2 linked regions of the Homo sapiens genome follow. The protein of the gene in region 2 purifies or fractionates together with the protein of the main gene of each other region. This does not show direct contact. Each region holds a gene or a part of one and is shown on either strand. Other genes may lie near its edges.

What was found. The genes of interacting proteins can lie anywhere in the genome.
Region 1: the proteins of RTCA (region 2) and GM2A purify together in Homo sapiens (affinity purification with mass spectrometry; one large-scale study listed by BioGRID and IntAct). This does not show direct contact.

The regions. Positions count from the first base shown.
Region 1 is NC_000005.10:151,259,685-151,263,184, reverse strand, and holds part of GM2A (ganglioside GM2 activator isoform 1 precursor), read right to left. Parts: intron 3,431-3,500; coding exon 3,269-3,430; intron 1-3,268.
Region 2 is NC_000001.11:100,290,216-100,293,269, forward strand, and holds the end of RTCA (RNA 3'-terminal phosphate cyclase), read left to right. Parts: intron 1-1,187; coding exon 1,188-1,289; 3' UTR 1,290-2,554; downstream 2,555-3,054.

The DNA of each region.
Region 1 (3,500 bases), on a different chromosome or scaffold from region 2:
GGAGGCAGAGGTTGCAATGAGCCATGATCGCGCGACTACACTCCAGTCTAGGCAACAGAGTGAAACTCCATCTCAAAAAAAAAAAAAAAAAAAAAGAAATTGGGGAAAAAGAAGGAGCAGAGGGGATCTGAGGCTAATTTTTCCTAAGCACAAGTGACAGTAAAGACAGAGGAGATTATGTAGGCCCAAATTTATGAAAGGTAATAAAGCAATGGAAAAGGAGAATAGGGAGTAAAACCCATCTTAATGGTTTGTGAAGAAGCCAGGAAAAGCAGGCTGAGGGCAGAAGAGCGGGTTTGCCAGCTTCTTGTTTCCAAGTCAGCTGCATAGCCCCCTCCCTGGAAACACCAGTGGCTGCATGGTGATGGCAGCAGAGGGAGCATGGCGGACGGCCTACCAGGAGAGCCCACACTCCAGATCAGCAGAGGGAGCACACAAATAAATGTGTGTGACCCTGGCAGAGAAACAGTCCAGTGTCCATACATAGGGAATGATTCCATCCCTTGGCCCAGATCCAAGGGTACAGGGCTTGACCCCCTATCACTTGAGGAACAGTAATGGAAACACAATGACTCTGCTAGGAAAAGGCTTGGTAGGAGGTGCAGGGGAGCTGAAAGCTGCCACATATCCAGGACTTGTGTCTGGGTCAAGAGACTGCAGGATAAGACAGATACTAATCGAAATGTTCACAAGATATAAAATGTACTGAGCATGTCCTGGGTGCCAGGCCCTGTGCAAAGCACTTTCCACATGATTTTCTAACTCAGGTATTGCTCAAGGAAAGCCCATAACGTAGGAGCTGTGATTAAGACAGGTCTAAGGATAATGATAGAAACACAGAATCCAAATCAGGAATCTTCTAAATAATTAACACAAAACTGGTACTAGAATAGATCTGGATCAGGAACAGACTGAAGGGCATAGAGGAGCATCATATAAAGGTAGCAATTTTAGCTAGAGAGGAAAGGACCATATTAAATGGTGTTGCAATGGATATATGAAAAGTCTTCATTGTTTTCTAAGAAAATATAAAAACATACACCCCTAAAATAGTCAATGGATGGAAACAAACAGGTTATTCCCAAAGTAAATACAAAAGGCAAATAAACTTATGAATAGACATCTACGCTCACTAGGAATGATGCAGGTTTATTCAAACATTGGGAGGCACTTTGGCAAAATGTATCAAAAGACCTAAAAAGTGTGTATCTAGAGAATCAGAAAATTATAAAAAGATGTACTATAAGAATAATTTCTACAAAGGTGGTTACTACAGCAAAACAAAAAACAAACAAACAAAAAAAACCCTCTGGCCAGGTACAGTGGCTCAAGCCTATAATCCCAGCACTTTGGGAGGCTGAGGCAGGTGGATTGCCTGAGGTCAGGAGTTCAAGACCAGCCTGGATAACATGGTGAAACCCCATCTCTACTAAAAATACAAAAAGTAGCTGGGCATGGTGGCAGGTGTCTGTAATCCCAGCACTTTGGGAGGCCGAGGCAGGCACATTGCCTGAGGTCAGGAGTTCAAGACCAGCCTGGCCAACATGGTGAAACCCCATCTCTACTAAAAATACAAAAATTAGTGGGGCGCAATGGCAGGTGCCTGTAATCCCAGCACTTTGGGAGGCTGAGACAGGAGAATCGCTTGAACCCGGGAAGTGGAGGTTGCAGGGAGCTGAGATTGCGCTACTGCACTCCAGCCTAGGCAACAGAGTAAGAACCTGTCTCAAAACAAACAAATAAACAAACAAACAAATAAAAACTACCCTGGAAACAAACTAAATGTTCAACAATAGACTTGTTATATAAATTATGAAAGATCCACATCAGAATATTTCTGCCATTAAAAATGATTGGGTGGGCTGAGCAAGGTGGCTCACGCCTATAATCCCAACATTTTGAGAGTCTGAGGCAGGAGGATTGCTTGAACTCAGGAGTTTGAGACCAGCCTGGGCAACACAGGGAGGCTCCGTCTCCATAAAAAATAAAAAAATTAGGTAAGCATGGTGACATGAACCTGTGGTCCCAGCTACTCAGGAGGCTGAGGTGGGAGGATCCCTTAAGCCCAGGAGGTCAAGGCTGCAGTAAGCCATGATCACACTACTGCACTCCAGCCTGAGCAACAGAGTGACACACTGTCTCTAAAATTACAATACATTAAAATAATAAAATAATGATTGGATAAAAAAAAATTGAATAAGTAGAGCCACCTAATCCTTGGAAAGATATGGACATATAGTATGAGGCAAAAAAAATAGCAAGTATAATAGCACATATCATATAATCCCATGAGTATAAGTGTGTATATATTTACAAACACATAAAAATTCTGATGGGATATATAAAGAGCAAACACTGACTATCTCTAGGATTTAGATTACTGGAGGACATTTACAATGAGCACTGCCTATTATCATACATATCCATTAAAAATAAATATGTGTGTTATGTATGTAATTGTATGGGGGAAAGTTGCAAAGAATATCCTATAAGATGTTAAAAGTGCTTATCCCTTATCACTAGGTAGTGAGATTTCAAGTGATTTATTTTATTTATTTATTTATTTTGGGACAGAGTTTCACTCTGTCACCCAGGCTGGAGTGCAGTGGTGCGATCCTGGCTTTCTGCAACCTCTGCCTCTTGGGTTCCAGCAATTCTCCTACCTCAGCCTCCTGAGTAGCTAGGATTACAGGCACATGCCACCACGCCCAGCTAATTTTTGTACTTTTAGTAGAGATGGGGTTTCACTATGTTGGCCAGGCTGGTCTCAAACTCCTGACCTCAAAAGATCCACCCACCTCAGCCTCCCAAAGTGTTGGGATTACAGGCATGAGCCACCACACCTGGCCTATTTTATTTATTTTTTGACCACTTGTGTTTTCTAAAGTGACTATATATTACTGGCTAATTGGTATATCAATTTTATAATTAACAACAAAACCAAATTGGCCAACCAGAGCTGTCAGACAATAATGAGCAGTTGGCCACCAGGCCCAGAGAAGGCCAGGACGCTTCTGCCAGGTGCAAGGTATCCGTCACTCCTGCCCTCACCAGGAAGTTGCTGGCGCTGACATCAGAGATTCCTTTCAATCTTATGATCCTGAGATTCCATGAACCTGTGAAAGAGTGTCTGAATCTACATGTCCTGTACTATTCTCTGGGAATCCAGGATTCTGAAATTCTTCACAGTTCCCCAAGCATACATGCCCCAGTACCCCTGCTGGCCAGACCCTCGCACCTCCCCTTCTCCACCCACCCCCAGGCTCACCTTCAGAGGAGAACTCAGGGGGACACTGGTGCTGCCCATGACACTGAGGGTCACATTTCCAGGAACGATGATGGGGTCAGGCTCCAGAGTCAGGCTTCTGATCACCGCAGGGTCCTTCCCTTCATCACAGTTATCCCAGGAAAAGCTACTGAGCTGGGATGGCTGGGGACAATCAGGCAGCAAGGAAGGAGAAGAAGAAAAAGGTTGACAAAAGAAACTATCACAGATCACA
Region 2 (3,054 bases):
AGGCATATTTGAAATCCTTTTGCCACAAACTTAACCTATTTAATTGTTTTGATTTTTTTTTTTAAGACGTTGATGGGAGTTGTGAGGAGTCTTCCTGTGTTGCCCAGGCCAGCCTCCTGAACTGAACTCAAATGATCCTTCCACCTCAGAATAGCTGGGATTATAGGTGTGCACCACTGCACCTGGCTAGTTGTTTTGATTCTAAATTTAGTTTTGTTAAAATGAATCACATTTGCTTTAAAAATAATGATGTTTTCAAAATACAGTGATATAGGCCAGGCACAATGACTCATGCCTGTAATCCCAGCGCTTTAGGAAGCTGACGCAGGAGGATCACTTCAGCCTAGGAGTTTGAGCCTGGGCAACAAAGTGAGACCCTGCCTATACAACAGAATTAAAAATTAGCCAGGCATGGTGGCATGTGCCTGTGGTCCCAGCTACACTGGAGGCTGAGGCAGGAGGATCCCTTGAACCCAGGAAGTTGAGGCTGCAGTGAGCCGTGTTCATGCCACTGCACTGCAGCCTGGGTGACAGAGCAAGACTCTGTCTCAAAAACAGAACAAAAACAAAAGCAAAATACAATGATACAGGTAAAATATTTCAAAGCCAACTTTAGTTACTAAGTGAAAAATGTGATGTTAAGCCCAGTACATTAAAGATGAAGGAAGATGTTAATCACCACCACCACCCCTCCTCCCCACATACCTTCTCTGAACTGGATCTTTTGAACGATATATATAGGGAACTAAATTAGCAAGAAAAAATGTAAAGAAATTAAAGGGTAATTTGTGACTTGACAAGATAAAAGTAGAAATGTTTCAGAAAAATTTTAGGGCATAGGGAATACAGTTGCATTAAAATTACCATTTGAGGTTTCAAAATTGTTATTTGCCTAAGCTGTACATCTGAGCTTTCTGATTCAGTGTGCGTGGAAGGGGCCCAGGCATATATATTTGGACAAAACTCACAGGTATGTATACCTCTGAAGAAGAACCATGGTTGTACAATGAAATGTGTTATCTTGAGGCTATTAAGTTTCTTTCTCATCAATCATTTGATCTTTGTGTCTCTGTAGGTTTTTCAATAAAATGGGCTTGACATTAACTCTCTGCCTACATAAGTTGGAGTTGTGGGCTCTTTCCTCCATCTCTCTTCGTATTACTTATATACTCCTCTTCTGATTTCAGGCTAAATTTATTGTGAAGAAATCAGAAGATGAAGAAGACGCCGCTAAAGATACTTATATTATTGAATGCCAAGGAATTGGGATGACAAATCCAAATCTATAGAGTATTTGCCTCTTAAATGATACCTCATTGATATATTGCACTATTTCATAAATACTATAAAATAATGACTAGGAAGTAACTTATTAAAGGCTATGACTTAAATTTGAAGATGAAGTACAGTGTTCTAGGTTTGCTGAGAAGGCTTCATTAAATTAATCTCACTTTGAATATCTCCTGAGAGATGGACAATGAAATATCAGTTGGTGGATATGTGTGATAGCTGATTTCAATATTGAAGTATTGAAATAAAATATTCTTTACACCTGAAGTAAATACATTTTTCTTTTTTATGTAATTAATTAAATCAGGGATATAGATTTGATCTGTAATTTGGGTATAATTCTAATCTTTGCTGAAATCACATCTCAAGTATAATGAGGCAACTTTATGCAAATGTACTTGTTGTGACAACAATAACATTTTCCTTTTTTTTTTTTTTTTTTGAGACAGTCTCGTTCTGTCACCCAGGCTGGGGTGCTGTGGTGTGATCTTGGCTCACTGCAACCTCTGCCTCCCGGGTTCAAGCAATTCTACTGCCTCAGCTTCCTGAGTAGTTGGTATTACACCACCATGCCCAGCTAATTTTTGTATTTTTAGTAGAGACAGGGTTTCACCATATTGGTCAGGCTGGTTTCGAACTCCTGACCTCGTGATCTGCCCGCCTCGGCCTCCCAAAGTGGTGGGATTACAGGCGTGAGCCAGTGCACCCGGCAACAATAACATTTAATAGGCATTGTCTCATTCTAATGATATATACCTTCTACCTAGTGGGCACTTTGTACATATTTATTTTTTATTTTATTTATTCATTTTTTTTGAGACAGAGTCTCACTCTGTCACCAAGTTGGAGTGCAGTGGCACAATCTCAGCTCACTGCAACCTCCGCCTTCCAGGTTGAAGTGATTCTCCAGCCTCAGCCTCCCGAGTAGCTGGGACTCCAGGCACGTACCACCATACCCAGATAATTTTTGCATTTTTAGTAGAGACGGGGTTTCACCATGTTGGCTAGGATGGTCTCCATCTCCTGACCTCGTGATCCGCCCACCTTGGCCTCCCAAAGTGCTGGGATTACAGGCATGAGCCACCACAGCTGGTCGTAAATATTTTTTGAATTTGAATCTGTTTTGGAAGCCAAATATGTTTTGGAAGCCAAACAATTAAGAGAAGTAAAATTTTAACCCTAGTAGGTTTCGCAGATTCATCCCCAGATATGTTTTTGTTTGGCTTGTGTTATTAACAAATAAATGAGTGTCTTTCAAATGGAATGTGCTTTCATTATTCTCTGTTATCTTACACCCAACATGCTTCCACATTTAGATGTTTTCCTGTTCCCGGTAGCAGTTGAGGTTGTGACTCAAAGGAAATCAGTTTGGTATGTCAGCTTAATGTGTTGTACTACAATAGAGTGTGTAATTCATTAAAACTTGGGTCTATCTTGGACCTTTTCTCATGATGATTAAAACATAGTCCAAAATGTAGATCCAGAGGATGCTCTATGATACATTTAGAAAGTCCTGAATTAGTCTGTATGGAACAGTAAAATGAAAAAAGTTGCCATGTACATAGTCATTATTCTTATCCTTGTCTGTGATATCTATGACCTTGGACAGTTGGGTTCAATTTGCTTTAAAGTTGATAATAGTGTTACTTGCTGTTTATGTTTTCACATAGTGGGTAAGTTTTGTAAGTTATTCATTTCTGTAATAGTTGAGATATATCTTTCTATTTTAGAGTAAAACTTTTTTAGAGTAATACTACACTTGTT